4 linked regions of the Homo sapiens genome follow. The protein of the gene in region 3 purifies or fractionates together with the protein of the main gene of each other region. This does not show direct contact. Each region holds a gene or a part of one and is shown on either strand. Other genes may lie near its edges.

The links. Proteins that work in one complex are often made in the same cells at the same time.
Region 1: the proteins of ANXA11 (region 3) and NIT2 fractionate together in Homo sapiens (co-fractionation; one large-scale study listed by BioGRID). This does not show direct contact.
Region 2: the proteins of ANXA11 (region 3) and C11orf54 fractionate together in Homo sapiens (co-fractionation; one large-scale study listed by BioGRID). This does not show direct contact.
Region 4: the proteins of ANXA11 (region 3) and OAT purify together in Homo sapiens (affinity purification with mass spectrometry; one large-scale study listed by BioGRID and IntAct). This does not show direct contact.

What each region holds. Positions count from the first base shown.
Region 1 is NC_000003.12:100,333,423-100,337,556, reverse strand, and holds the start of NIT2 (omega-amidase NIT2), read right to left. Parts: upstream 2,801-4,134; 5' UTR 2,766-2,800; coding exon 2,759-2,765; intron 1-2,758. UniProt on the Homo sapiens protein: Has omega-amidase activity. The role of omega-amidase is to remove potentially toxic intermediates by converting 2-oxoglutaramate and 2-oxosuccinamate to biologically useful 2-oxoglutarate and oxaloacetate, respectively.
Region 2 is NC_000011.10:93,744,672-93,748,171, reverse strand, and holds part of C11orf54 (ester hydrolase C11orf54), read right to left. Parts: exon of another isoform or gene 1,692-3,500; intron 876-1,691; 5' UTR 779-875; coding exon 724-778; intron 1-723. UniProt on the Homo sapiens protein: Exhibits ester hydrolase activity on the substrate p-nitrophenyl acetate, in vitro. Regulates DNA damage and repair by regulating HIF1A degradation via chaperone-mediated autophagy (CMA).
Region 3 is NC_000010.11:80,160,538-80,164,037, reverse strand, and holds part of ANXA11 (annexin A11), read left to right. Parts: intron 1-424; coding exon 425-504; intron 505-632; coding exon 633-689; intron 690-2,009; coding exon 2,010-2,103; intron 2,104-3,500. UniProt on the Homo sapiens protein: Binds specifically to calcyclin in a calcium-dependent manner. Required for midbody formation and completion of the terminal phase of cytokinesis.
Region 4 is NC_000010.11:124,399,364-124,401,923, reverse strand, and holds part of OAT (ornithine aminotransferase, mitochondrial isoform 1 precursor), read left to right. Parts: intron 1-84; coding exon 85-198; intron 199-939; coding exon 940-1,084; intron 1,085-2,560. UniProt on the Homo sapiens protein: Catalyzes the reversible interconversion of L-ornithine and 2-oxoglutarate to L-glutamate semialdehyde and L-glutamate.

The DNA of each region.
Region 1 (4,134 bases), on a different chromosome or scaffold from region 3:
AGTTGAACCTGGGAGTTGGAGGTTACAGTGAGCCAAGATCGCGCCACTGCACTCCAGCCTGGACGACAGAGTGAGACTCAGTCTCCAAAAAAATAAATAAATAAATAAATAATTTTCCTTGTTCGAGTTACTAGTGTTGTTTCCATGTCCTGTCTGGACCCTGATGGATACATAGTTCCTGCTTATGGTCTGGTGGGACGCAGCAGTAAAGGATCCAAAGCACATTATAATCTATGAAGCTCTGCAAAACTTCAGGAATTATTAGTGTAGGGAAAAGAAAGAGCGATCAGATTATTACTGTGTCTGTGTAGAAAGAAGTAGACATAGGAGACTCCATTTTGTTCTGTACTACGAAAAATTCTTCTGCCTTGAGATGCTGTTAAACTATAACCTTACTCCCAACCCCGAGCTCTCTGAAACATGTGCTGTGTCCACTCAGGGTTAAATGGATTAAGGGCTGTGCAAGATGTGCTTTGTTACAGATGCATGAAGGCAGCATGCTCCTTAAGAGTCATCACCACTCCCTAATCTCAAGTACCCAGGGACACAAACACTGCGGAAGGCCGCAGGGACCTCTGCCTAGGAAAGCCAGGTATTCTCCAAGGTTTCTCCCCATGTGATAGTCTGAAATATGGCCTCGTGGGAAGGGAAAGACCTGACCGTCCCCCAGCCCGACACCCGTAAAGGGTCTGTGCTGAGGAGGATTAGTGCAAGAGGAAGGAACGCCTCTTTGCAGTTGAGACAAGAGGAAGGCAGGCATCTGTCTCCTGCCCGTCCCTGGGCAACGGAATGTCTCGGTATAAAACCCGATTCTATGTCCCATCTACTAAGATAGGGAAAACCGCCTTAGGGCTGGAAGGGGGACAGGCGGGCAGCAATACTGCTCTTTAAGACATTGAGATGTTTATGTGTATGCATATCTAAAGCACAGCACTTAATTCTTTACCTTGTTCATGATGCAGAGACCTTTGTTCACGTGTTTATCTGCTGACCTTCTCTCCACTATTATCCTATGACCCTGCCACATCCCCCTCTCCGAGAAACACCCAAGAATGATCATAAATACTAAGGGAACTCAGAGGCCGACGGGATCCTCCGTATGCCGAACGCTGGTCCCCTGGGCCCCCCTACTTCTTTCTCTATACTTTGTTTGTGTCTTTTTCTTTTCCAAGTCTCTCGTTCCACCTAACGAGAAACACCCACAGGTGTGGAGGGGCAACCCACCCCTTCAATTAGTAATGGCCTGCCCGAACTTCCCATCCCACCTCTGCTCCAGAGTCTGAAAATCCTACCATTAGAGAGCTATCTCTTTTGGGTGTTTCCTGTAACAACGCAAATGTCTCCAGAAAAGGCAACAATGACAAACCCTGGCCTCTGATGAAGGCCTGTTTGGCTCAGGGTTAACTAAAAGGAAAACTCAGATGTCCCATTCCTTGATCTATCCTAAATATAGTGAGAAGCACTAAATTTAACCCTGAAGGCAGCCTGCTAAATAGTTATAGAATCTGAAGGGAAACTAAAACAGGAAATAAAAGCTGGGATTATTCTGGGGCAAACAGATATTTTGAGCTGTTATCAGAACAGCAGATAAATCCACTAAACGTCTCCCCTCCATTTCCCAGCGTTAAGCCATTCTCCCTCCTCAGCTTCCCAAGTAGTTTGGGACTAAAGGGGCGTGCCACCACACCGGGCTAATTTTGTATTTTTTAGTACAGACAAGGTGTCGCCATGTTGCCCAGGCTGGTCTCCAACTCTTGACTCGTGAACTCAAGCGATCCTCGTGCCTCAGCTTCCCAAACTGTTGGGATTACAGGCGTGAGCCACGTGCCGGGCCATGTCTGTGCTTCCGAGGGTGGGAAAGATAAAGCTCACCATGGCTACGCTGATGGCTTCCTCTCCTACACATCTCACCCACAAGGGCGGGGTCCTCAACTAAGCTTAGGACTGCCTATCATTCTGCAAATGACCCACTCTACAGACATGCTGCAGCAGGGAAACCCCGCCACTGGGCAGTTCCTCATGCTGAGGAGGAGACGCCCGTCACTCCATCTCATCTGTAAAGTGAAGACTTTTAAGGCTGCCCTAATATTCATCATAATCTAACAACGAAGACCTTACCAAGGGGCGGAAAAAAAGAATAAAATACTGTGAGCGAAGGAAACAACAAAGGAATAACATTTAAAGCAATGTGCCAGGTCCTTCACACATTAACATCATTGTGTGAGGTATCATTAACATCATTTTACAAATAAAGAAACAGGGGACTTGCAGGGGGAAAGCTGCACAAAGTCACTGAACAAAGTAAGTGACACAGCAAGAATCCAAGTCAAAATCTGGAGCTGGAAAGTGAGTGGGGAGACGAAGAACCGCCTGGGCACCTTTGTGCAGGGCGGGGCTGGAGGAGGTCACGCAACTTGAAAACACCCAAGGGAGTTGGATCCTACCACCGCGGCCCACACCGTGGAGAAATACACGTCCATCAGCCTCTGTCAAGCAGGACGCGGCGGGTGCCGGCGCGGCCGGGTGGCCTGGTGCTTTCTGGGCCTCGCCCGCCACCCCGGAAGCCTGGAATCCCGGGAGTGCGCCCGGCCGCCCGGCCACGCGATCCCGGACCCACGCGGACGCCCGCCTCAGGGAAGGCCGCGCACGGCGGGGACGCGGGGCGGAGGGGCTGAGCCGGCCGAGCCACCGCCGGCGCCGCTCCAAAGCCTCCCCCGCGGCCCGAACTCGAGCTGCAGCGCGCGGCCGCGCCACTTACAGGTCATGACTCTGCAGACAAGCACCACCTGCGGCGCGGACTGAGCGCTGGAGATCCGGCGGACCGCGGCGTCGCTACGGTGGGGCGGGGACCGCGTCAGAGGCCCCGCCCCACCCCTCCTCCTGGCCCCGGCCGGGAGGAGAGAAGGGTCTGCGTTCATTCCAGTGCGCCTGTAACACCAGGACGGACCAACGAGAAATGGTTAATTGCAACACAGTCCGGAAAAAGCATGCCTCGAAAGGCAAAGGGCAAAAGGGAACGGCCTAAGTCGAGGTGGTGTGCTGGTGAATGTCTTAACAACCAGACTTTTCAGGGAGGAAAGCCCTGATTTGTAGCGTTTGCTGATTCTCCGCAAAAGGACTGAACTTCTAGCTGGTTGAATCACCTCTGTGGCCAGGTTAACACCGTATGCTGATGGGCTTGAGCTATTTGAACAAGTCTCTGTGACGGGGACGGAATGACCCTGGTTGGTTTAGGCACGCGAGACGTCTGTAAAATCTGACTACAAGGCTGCTAGGCCAACGGGAAAGATGCTGAGGGTTCAACGCCATGCCCTCAACAAGTCAGTCCTCGAATACATTGTCATCTCTTTGCTAATATCCTTTTTTGTTTGTTTGTTTTAGACAGGGTCTCACTCTGTCATCCAGTCAGGAGTGCAGTGCAGCAGTCTCAGCCCATTGCAGCCTCAACCTCCCGGCTCAAGCGATCCTCCGTCCTCAGCCTCCCAAGTAGCTGGGACTACAGGCACACACCACCACACCTAGCTATTTCTTTTCCTTTTTTCTTTTTCTTTCTTTCTTTCTTTTTTTTTTTTTTTTAAGTTTTTTACTTTTAATAGAGGTGGGGCCTTGCTATTTTGCCCAGGCTGGTCTCAAACTCCTGAGCTCAAGACCCTACTGCCTTAGCCTCCCAAAGTGCTGGAATTATAGGCGTGAGCTGCTGCGCCCAGCCTATAGACTATGATTTTTGCATTTTTATTTATTAGATTGCTTTTTAATTTTCGTGTTTTGTGTTTTTGTGCCTTGTCAGACTTGTGGAACAAAAATCCAAAACTTAACCACCTTTTGGAATGCCCCAGAATAGTTTATACTGAAACAGATCTTGGTTTGTAAAAGAACACTATAAAAACATTTTGGGGGCAACTAGGGAGATTTAAATATGAACGAGATATTTGATGCTTTTCTGAATTATTTTGTGTGCTATAGTGTTGTGCTTGTGACAATTCTTTACTCTTAGAAAATGAGGAAGTATTAGGGATGAACCATCAGAATGTTTGACTTGAAAATCGTCAGCAAAAAGAAAACACATAAGATAAAGCAAATATGGCAAAATGTTAATTATTAAATCTAGGAGGAGGACACAGCTGTTCATGGTAC
Region 2 (3,500 bases), on a different chromosome or scaffold from region 3:
AAGCAAAAATGAGTCTATTTCTTAACTTCAATCTTATCAGGATGACAAATGAACTACCAGAACATCACATTTTGAGAAACAAGCGAAGGTTCTATAGTTACCATTAGAACAGAACCTAGAGGTTGTTAAATAAAGGTTAGTATTCTGACAGACTTTACAGTTTTGGATAACAACTATTCCTGGCTTCATTTTTGTACTCGTTTTTGTTTTCCTTTTTTTGACTATCTTCCCTCCTAATTTATCTTGGGAAACTGCCTTAAATCAAAGCAAGTTCACTGGCAGTCTGTCATTATCAGTGGTGGGGGGGAATTATATTGGGAATATGATTAACATACAACAGTAGAGTATACATTTAAAGAATAATGTAAGTGAAAAAAGTTAAAGCAAAATTTTGCGACTCTTTGGGCATCACACATGCTTAAGTCTTGGATTACTAATCATTTACATCTTGTAAAGTTGGTATCATCAATAATCTATAAGTGAAAGAAAAAAGAATTTATAAATTATAATTTTAGTTTTTTTAGACAGAATTTGGACTTTCTCAATAAAAATGGGACAGAACAGATACTGAAATGGAAAATGAATTCTGTACCAAAAGTATTATTTTGATAAGTAAGATATAGATATACATAAGTAGTAAGATATAGATAGATCTTAGAATCTTTTTAAAAGAATTTTCTCTTGGGATAATTTTTAAAAATCCAAAGTTAATATTGTTTTTACCTCCAGCAAGCTCTTCAAGACTTGGTACATGAAAAGAAAACTCAGCACAAGCCATTTTCTTTCTTCTTTAGGTGTGAGGTTGGACAAATAGAGCTACTCTTGGTTAATTATCACAAGAGTCCACAGCGCACCAAGTATGAACAGTTTCTGTTCTGGAAATGAACATTGAGCATTCAAACATATAAACAGAACAAAAGGGCATTTAGGTTTCTATCTTCATAAACAGGCAAACACAGCTTCCAGCATTTAATATTCCAAGTGAGAAATAGACAAGTGGCCTTTTAATACTTACACTTTATTTTATTGTAATTTAAAATTTAAAACTAATTTTTTAATAGAAACAAGGTGTTACTATGTTGCCCAGGCTGGTCTTGAATTCCTGGCCTCAAGCCATCCTCTGCCTCCCAAAATGCTGGGATTACAAGTGTGAGCCACTGCTCCCAGCTGATTCATTTTTTTTTTAAATATCATATAGCTGGAGTGAACATCCAATTTTCTAATGGTGGGTCTAAGGAATATAGGTCTTGAAGCAAAAGGTACTTATTAGGGGTTTATGGATAAGTGTTCAAATGGTTGTAGATAACAGTACATATAGGATTTGTATAGTACATATAGGATCTCAAGTATTTCTGTAATAGATATGTGTGTTTTTTATTCTATATTTCACATTTAGGCCAAAAATTAAATGAGTTCCTTAGACTATCACTTTTTCAAAATAAAATTTAAATTACGAATAGAAATGGAAACTTTTATGGAATGATTAGCCTTTGAAATTCAAATTTTTATTTTCATTTACAAATAAACATACTTTCTTGGTAAATAGATTTAATGTTCAATTCTGATAATCTATCCAATTATAATTTGATATTTAAATATATGCTTTTCTATCATTGCAACTAAAAAATAAAATATATGCCAAGTATACTTTGTAACAAATAAGTGCACATACACAGAGATTAGTATCTTACCTTAAGTGTTCAGTGATGAAGTATGCAACCAGAGGGAGATAAAATGAAGACAGGGAAAAATATAAGTAATATGAGGTAGACAGGTATCCTACTCCAAGCCAATCACAACAGGGAACACAGACAAGACTCTTAAGGGTGTTTCTAAGAGTACTGCAGGAGTTCTCGTTAAAACTGTTAATAGAACACTTCATTAATCTGAGTGGCCTCTGCCCTTAACATGCCTATTTAGCAAGTGGAACGGTGATCTTCAGCCATTTGAAATATTCTTCCAAATTTTTTTTTCTAATTTTCCAAAGATTCACAGGTTGCTTAGAAACTGGGTTTCTAGTTCTGGTACTTTCCAACAACATATCCTCTATAATCATTCTATTGCAAACATTTAGGATGTTATATTTACTTTAGTACTTTATCAAATACCAGCTTTTATTGTTCTTGATTTAATACATGTAATCTAATCTCCCAAATATATATAACTGTTTATTAACGGTCCCAAATTTTTGAGACGGAGTCTCGCTGTGTCACCCAGGCTGGAGTGCAATGGCATGATCTCGGCTCACTGCAACCTCCGCCTCCCAGGTTCAAGAAATTCTCCTGTCTCATCCTCCCCAGTAGCTGGGATTACAGGCATGTGCCATCATGCCCGGCTAATTTTTTGTATTTTAGTAGAGACGGGGTTTCACCATGTTGCCCAGGTTGGTCTCAAACTCCTGAGCTCAAGCAATCCACTTGCCTCGGCCTCCCAAAGTGCTAGGATTACAGGCGTGAGCCACTGCACCCGGCCCCCAAATCTTATATAATCATACTTAAATTATTTTAAACATAGTTTTGTGTGGGGAAAAGAGAGCTCAGACTGTTACTGTGTCTATGTGGAAAAGGAAGACAAAAGAAACTCCGTTTTGATCTGCACAAAGAAAAATTGTTTTGCTTTGAGATGCTGTTAATCTGTAACTTTAGCCCCAACCCTGTGCTTACAGAAACATGTGCTGTATTGAATCAAGGTTTAAGGGATTTAGGGCTGTGCAGGATGTGCCTTGTTAACAATATGTTTGCAGACTGTATGCTTGGTAAAAGTCATCGCCATTCTCCATTCTCTATTAACCAGGGACATGATGCACTGCAGAAAGCTGCAGGGACCTCTGCCCAAGAAAGCGTGGGTATTGTCCAAGAATTCCCCCCACTGAGACAGCCTGAGATATGGCCTCGTGGGAAGGGAAAGACCTAACCGTCCCCCAGCCTGACACCCATAAAGGGTCTGTGCTGAGAAGGATTAGTAAAAGAGGAAGGCCTCTGTTTCCCGCATATCCCTGGGAACAGAATGTCTCCGTGTAAAGCCGACTATTCGTTCTATTCTGAGATAGGAGAAAACCACCCTGTGGCTGGAGGGGAGATATGCTGGCAGCAATACTGCTCTGTTACTCTTTGCTACACTGAGATGTTTGGGTAAAGAGAAACATGAATCTAGCCTACTTACACATCTGGGCACAGTACCTTCCCTTGAACTTATTTATGACGCAGATTTCTTTACTCACATGTTTTCCTGCTGACCTTCTCCCCACCATCACCCTGTTCTCCCACCGCAGTTCCCTTGCCGAGATAGTGAAAAGTAATCAATAAATACTGAGGGAACTCAGATACCAGTGCCGGTGCAGGTCCTCGCATACTGAGTGTGCCCGTCCTCTGGGCCCACTGTTCTTTCTCTATACTTTGTGTCTTATTTATTTTCTCAGTCTCTCTTCCCACTTGACGAGAAATACCCACAGGTGTGGAGGGGCAGGCCCCCTTCAGTTTTGGGTTGAATAATTTATAATT
Region 3 (3,500 bases):
CTGCCCTCTGCCCTCTGCCCTCTGCAGATCCCTGTGCTCTTGGGGCTGTGGCCTCATTCTCTCCTAGGGCCTTTTACTCCTTCCTGGCCTTCTTATCAACCCATCTTCTGCCACCCCCAATACTTTGGGCTTTGACCCAAGACCCAGCCCTTCCTTCTGTTTATACATGGTGCAAATGACTAATGTAAGGGAGAGGCAGGGAAAACCTGGATGTGGTTTGGGCCAAGGCTGACTAGAGGCCAGGTCAGCCTGGAGGTCACAGGCTTGTATATCCCTGGAGGGCCATATGGGCTATTTGTTCTCTTGAGCCCGAGCCAAGACCTCCAGCCTTTTTCTCCCCAGTACCCACTTTTGATAGTGTTTTGCAATGGGCAGCTCCATAAAGAGAGCTACAGGATGGACCTTCCTTGCTTCTCCCTTTCAGAATTCAAAAAGACCCTGGAAGAGGCCATTCGAAGCGACACATCAGGGCACTTCCAGCGGCTCCTCATCTCTCTCTCTCAGGTACTTTTCCCACGACAGGGCTCGGGGCCCCCAAGCCATGGAAGTCAAAGAGATGGGATCCCCGCAATGAGGAAAGGGAAAATAAATGGGGAAGGAGTGGGCATGACCATACACCTGCTTCCTTTCAGGGAAACCGTGATGAAAGCACAAACGTGGACATGTCACTCGCCCAGAGAGATGCCCAGGTGAGTGTGATGGCCAAGCCCCTGGACTTCCTAAAGCAGGGATGCACCCCGCTTTCTTGCTTCCTGAGAGAGGTACCCTAGGGTGGAAAGAACAATAGATAAGCAGTGGGTTGCAGATGCTGTGAGTTTCAGACGCGCTGAACTGTTCAACTGTATGACCTAGAACAGGTAATCTGACCTCCAGGGCTTCAGCTTCCCCACCTATAGGAGGGAACATGTGAGATAATTAGTATTTCGATAGTTGATAGATCATGGTTTTGGACGTGGGATTTTGTGTGACAGCGTACTTTCCCCATGTTTAGTTGCACATAGCATTATGTTTGCAAAGGGGCAAAATTTGCACTTGCTTATTAAGTTTTTGAGGATTTGAGCCTAGAAACCAGCTGCCACATTAGTTGAGCACCCTTAGAATTCTGTCGTTGTCCCTCTTGTGAGTTGCAGACAAAAGGGGAAAAGTCCAAGCAAAGTCCAGGCATCTGAGCTACTCTCTCGAAAAGTTTGGGTTTCCCACTAATGAATTTCAACCGTAGTATTATGGCAGGGCAGAGCCATTACTTCCTGGTGGGGTGGAGTTGGCCATACCTCTCTGTCTCCCTTCACTGCTCTTGTCATCCACGGCAGGGCATTCACCAGGAGCTGCCAGTGGTCTAAATTATCTCTACCATCTGCGGGATTGGAATGAGACCTCAAGGAATGCCCCCTTGTTAGGGCTGGAGGAGAGCTACTCCTCTGGTCTGGTCCTTTTGCTGGTCCTCCTTTTCCGGAGGAGGAAACTGAGGCTCAAAAAGGTTGAGCACTGTTCCCAACTGAAAGCTAGAAGCAGAGCCCGGACAAGGGCCTATACTCCTGGCTCGGTCTTCTGTGCCCAGTCAGCACTTGCCTCTGCCCTGGTCTCAGACCTGCTGCTCCTGCAGGGTCTGCCTTATTCAGTGTCTCTCTGGCTGGTAACATCCATTCCCATTCTGGGAGTCAGGGCTGGACACGCCTGGGGCTCAGGGCTCTGGCTTTTGCTCCAGCGAGAGTTTTGCATGCCACTTTTAGCGGGGCAAAAATTGTCTCATGCTCTGCCTTCTCAGTCCAGAGCTGCTTTGGCCTCATCTTGACCTGTGGGATCTCAGCCCCTGATTGCTGCTTTCTGCTCTTTTTCAGGGCTGCTACCTGAGGCCTAGCAGGCACTTTAGAGGCCATCTAGTTCAGAGGTTGCAAATTGGCAAATACTTTAGGCTCAAACCTTCAGAAGTTTACCAGGCTCTCCTGGGTGACCTGGGCCTGGGGTCTGGGTGTGGCCTGTGCCACATGTGCGTCTTCCTCTCTCTCCAGGAGCTGTATGCGGCCGGGGAGAACCGCCTGGGAACAGACGAGTCCAAGTTCAATGCGGTTCTGTGCTCCCGGAGCCGGGCCCACCTGGTAGCAGGTAAGGCAGGCTGGGGTCCCTCAGAGGCCAGTTAGATGAGGGCAGTCAGGGGATTGTGGGGAAACAAAGCTATGGGAACACTTGGTCGTTCCTCCCTGCGTGGGGCTTTCGCCTCCTCAAAAGAGCCCCCTGGTGGGAATTTAAAAGACACTGTCAGAGGGTTTCCTGAGTTCTGGCAAACATCCAGTTCTGGAGGTTCTACCGGTGTAGAAACCTGGTGTCTTTGTACGTGGGAATGTGGAACGTCAGAGTTGGGAGGGTCCTTCGGGAGCACCCAATCCAGTGTTTTCCAAAGCCTGGCATAAGAAACAGTCATAACAATAAAACTGGGTGCCATTCATTTACTCATTCATTCAACAGATGTAAATCGCGCTCCCGCATGGGTCAGTCTGTCAGGTGGTGGAGCAGGTGTGGGGCCACGGTGGGGGGCAGGGCACTGCAGAGTGTGTTCCATGGGCTGCACTTTCTCATTTGGGGAGACAGACAGTAAACAACAATGAAATAAAATCTGTATCAGATGGGAAATCCTGTAGAGGAAAATCAAGCTGGAAACAGGTAGGGAGTGATGGTAGGGTCCACCGGGAGGTGCTTGGGCCAGTCCCCACTGAGGTCGTGACATTTGATTTAAAAACCTAAAGGGAGATGCAGGGGCAGAGGCCTGCCTGGGGCTCCCAGCACGACTGAGAACAGTGAAGGGGGACCATGTGGAGCAGGTGGAGTGAGCAAGAGGAGTGGGAGGTGAGGGCAGAGAGGGGAGAGGGCCCTGCTGATGACTTCCCGGAGCTGGGTATTTATCCTGAGCAAAAGAGGAAGCCAGTGGAGGGCCCTGAGCAGAGGAGGCTGTGCAGAATCCCTGGCTGTGGTGCCGAGAATGGAGTGAAGGGTGCAAGGCCAAGCAGCGAAGCCTGTCGGGAGGCTGCTGCAGGGACCCGGGGAGGAATGGTGGTAATAGGGGCTTGTGGTGAGGAGGTGTCAGGTTCCGGCCATGTTTGCTGATGAATTGGACACGTGACGTGTGGGAGAGAGAGGGTTCGAGGATTATACAGGGTTTCTTTAGGCCAAGCAGTGGGAGAATGGCCCTCAACTGAGACAGGGGGACTGTAGGTGGAGCTGGCTTTAGGTGCCTGTAGGGTGGAGCTGCAGGGAGGCTGCTGGGTTGCTGAGTGTGGAGGTCAGGAGAGGTCTGGCCTGGTTGTGGAAGGTAAGGGAGCTATGGGTAGTTGAAGTTATCTGAGGCTCTGGGACTGCAGGAGGTCCCCTCAGGAGGGAGACTGTGGGGAGCCCACCGGTGTGAGGAGACTAAGAAGGAGCAGCTAGGGAGGGAGGAGGACGCAGAGGAAGGGGGTCCTGGAGGCCAGTGTGAGGTGGCAGGCAAGGACTGAGGATGGTGACCACAC
Region 4 (2,560 bases), about 44 Mb from region 3:
GGTGACAGCGAGACTCTGGGGAAAAGGATGCTTAGTAGAATGCTTAGTGCTGAGAAATGACATGGTGAATTGACTGTCTTTCAGGTGTCTGCAGTGCTGTGTGATGATGACATCATGCTGACCATTAAGCCAGGGGAGCATGGGTCCACATACGGTGGCAATCCACTAGGCTGCCGAGTGGCCATCGCAGCCCTTGAGGTAAAGACTGATACAGCCACACAGTGTCTATTCTTTAAAGCAATGTTGAAGTGATTTTTAATTTGGGCCCACTGGTATAATAAAAAATTCAATAAGAATGCCAAATATTAGAAAACATGAAGTATAGAGGAAAAATTTTAGGAACAAGATATTCTCAAAAAGTAATTTAAACTTGGCCTAGTAGACTGGATTTCCTCCGTGGGCTTCCTGAGTTCACAGTCACCTGGCGCTTTGAGTTCTTCGGCCCTGGCTGGCCCTCATAGAACTCTCAACTGTGACCCACCTACCAGACCCGTCTTTTTGCTTAGCAAGCAAGTCTTCTTTCAAGTGTGGATTTATAATGTTTTCAGACTGATTTTTTAAGTGCCTGCTGAAGGTATACAATTATTATGTAATCTCTGAGGACAGATCTTTGTGAGGGGGGAAGAAACTATTGCAGTTTAGGAATTACATTTCGTCCATTGATGTATTCAATTAATGACAGTATGTGAGTTGCATTAAATAAACTTTAATCCTTATTTTGCCATGAATGATTGGCAATAGATTTGTGATGAAAGCAAGACTCTGAGCTAGTGTATGTTTAATTAGAAACTAATACAGGCTTTGAAAAATAGCAATGAAAGTTAAGTTCCTCTGGTATTTTATCTAGTCATGTTTTTCCTGTGTTTACAGTCCCCGTTGTCCTCCAAAAAACAAAAAAAGGACAGTCTTAATATTTGTATAATTTTTCTTTAAACGTAGGTTTTAGAAGAAGAAAACCTTGCTGAAAATGCAGACAAATTGGGCATTATCTTGAGAAATGAACTCATGAAGCTACCTTCTGATGTTGTAACTGCCGTAAGAGGAAAAGGATTATTAAACGCTATTGTCATTAAAGAAACCAAAGGTATGGAGATAAAACATTTACTCAAGATAATTTTTTAAGGAAGACCTAAAATACACTTGGTATTTAATTTAATTAATTTATTTATTTTTCGAGACGGAGTCTTGCTCTGTCTCCTAGGCTGCAGTGCCGTGGCGCAATCTTGGCTCACTGCACTCTGCCTCCTGGGTTCAAGCAATTCTCTGCCTCAGCCTCCTGAGTAGCTGGGATTACAGGCGCCTGTCACCACGCCCAGCTAATCTTTATATTTTTAATAGAGATGGGGTTTCATAATGTTGGCCAGGCTGATCTCAAACTCCTGACCTCGTGATCCACCTGCGTTGGCCTCCCAAAGTGTTGGGATTATAGGCGTGAGCCCACCGCGCCCGGCCACACTTTTTTTTTTTTTTTTTTTTTAAGATGGAGTCTTGCTCTGTTGCCAGGCTGGAGTGCAATGGCGCCATTTTGGCTGACTGCAACTTCCGATGCCCCGGTTCAAGCGATTCTCCTGCCTCAGCCTCCCGAGTAGCTGGTATTACAGGCACGTGCCAACACGCCCAGCTAATTTTTGTATTTTTGGTAGAGATGGGGTTTCACCATGTTGGCCAGGGTGGTCTCGATCTCCTGACCTCGTGATCCGCCTGCCTCAGCCTCTGAAAGTGCTGAGATGACAGGCATGAGCCACTGCTCCTGGCCACACTTGGTATTTTAATTGGGTGTTGGGATGTTCTGTTTGAAACTGCTGACTGACATAATGACCAAACCTTTTAGACAGATTATTGTCTGATTTATAATTATATTAAGAGTATAAAAAATATAGCTCTTTTCTAAATGAAGGCACATTTAACCAATTTGACCCTTGTTCCTTTAAGACACTTATTTTTCTGCCTTAAATTAGTCATGCAGTATTTAGAGAGTTCAAGTTTTTTTGTTGGTGAGTCTGGACTTGAAAGTGTCCTCTTTGCTATCCTTCCCTCCCTCACTTTGATGCTTTGTGTCAGTAGAGGTTATAGGAGCAGCAGAAATAATGATATGAATGACAGTTATGGGGTCAATAATAAAAATAATGCTGGCTGTCACTTAATTGGGTGTTTGATGTTTTAGTACATCCTTTGTAACCCTTAGGTGTTCCTTGCTGGATTTTCTTGTGATAACTCTTCCTTTTAAAGCAACGATTCCAACCTCCCAACCTTGGCTGCACTTAAAGAATCACCTGAGGGGCCGGGCGCGGTGTCTTATGCCTGTAATCCCAGCACTTTGGGAGGCCGAGACGGGTGGATCACGAGGTTAGGAGATCGAGACCATCCTGGCTAACACAGTGAAACCCCATCTCTACTAAAAATACAAAAAAATAGCCAGGCGAGGTGGTGGGTGCCTGTAGTCCCAGCTACTCAGGAGGCTGAGGCAGGAGAATCGCTTGAACCTGGGAGGTGGAGCTTGCAGTGAGCTGAGATTGCGCCGCTGCACTCCAGCCTGGGCGGCAGAGTGAGACTCCGTCTC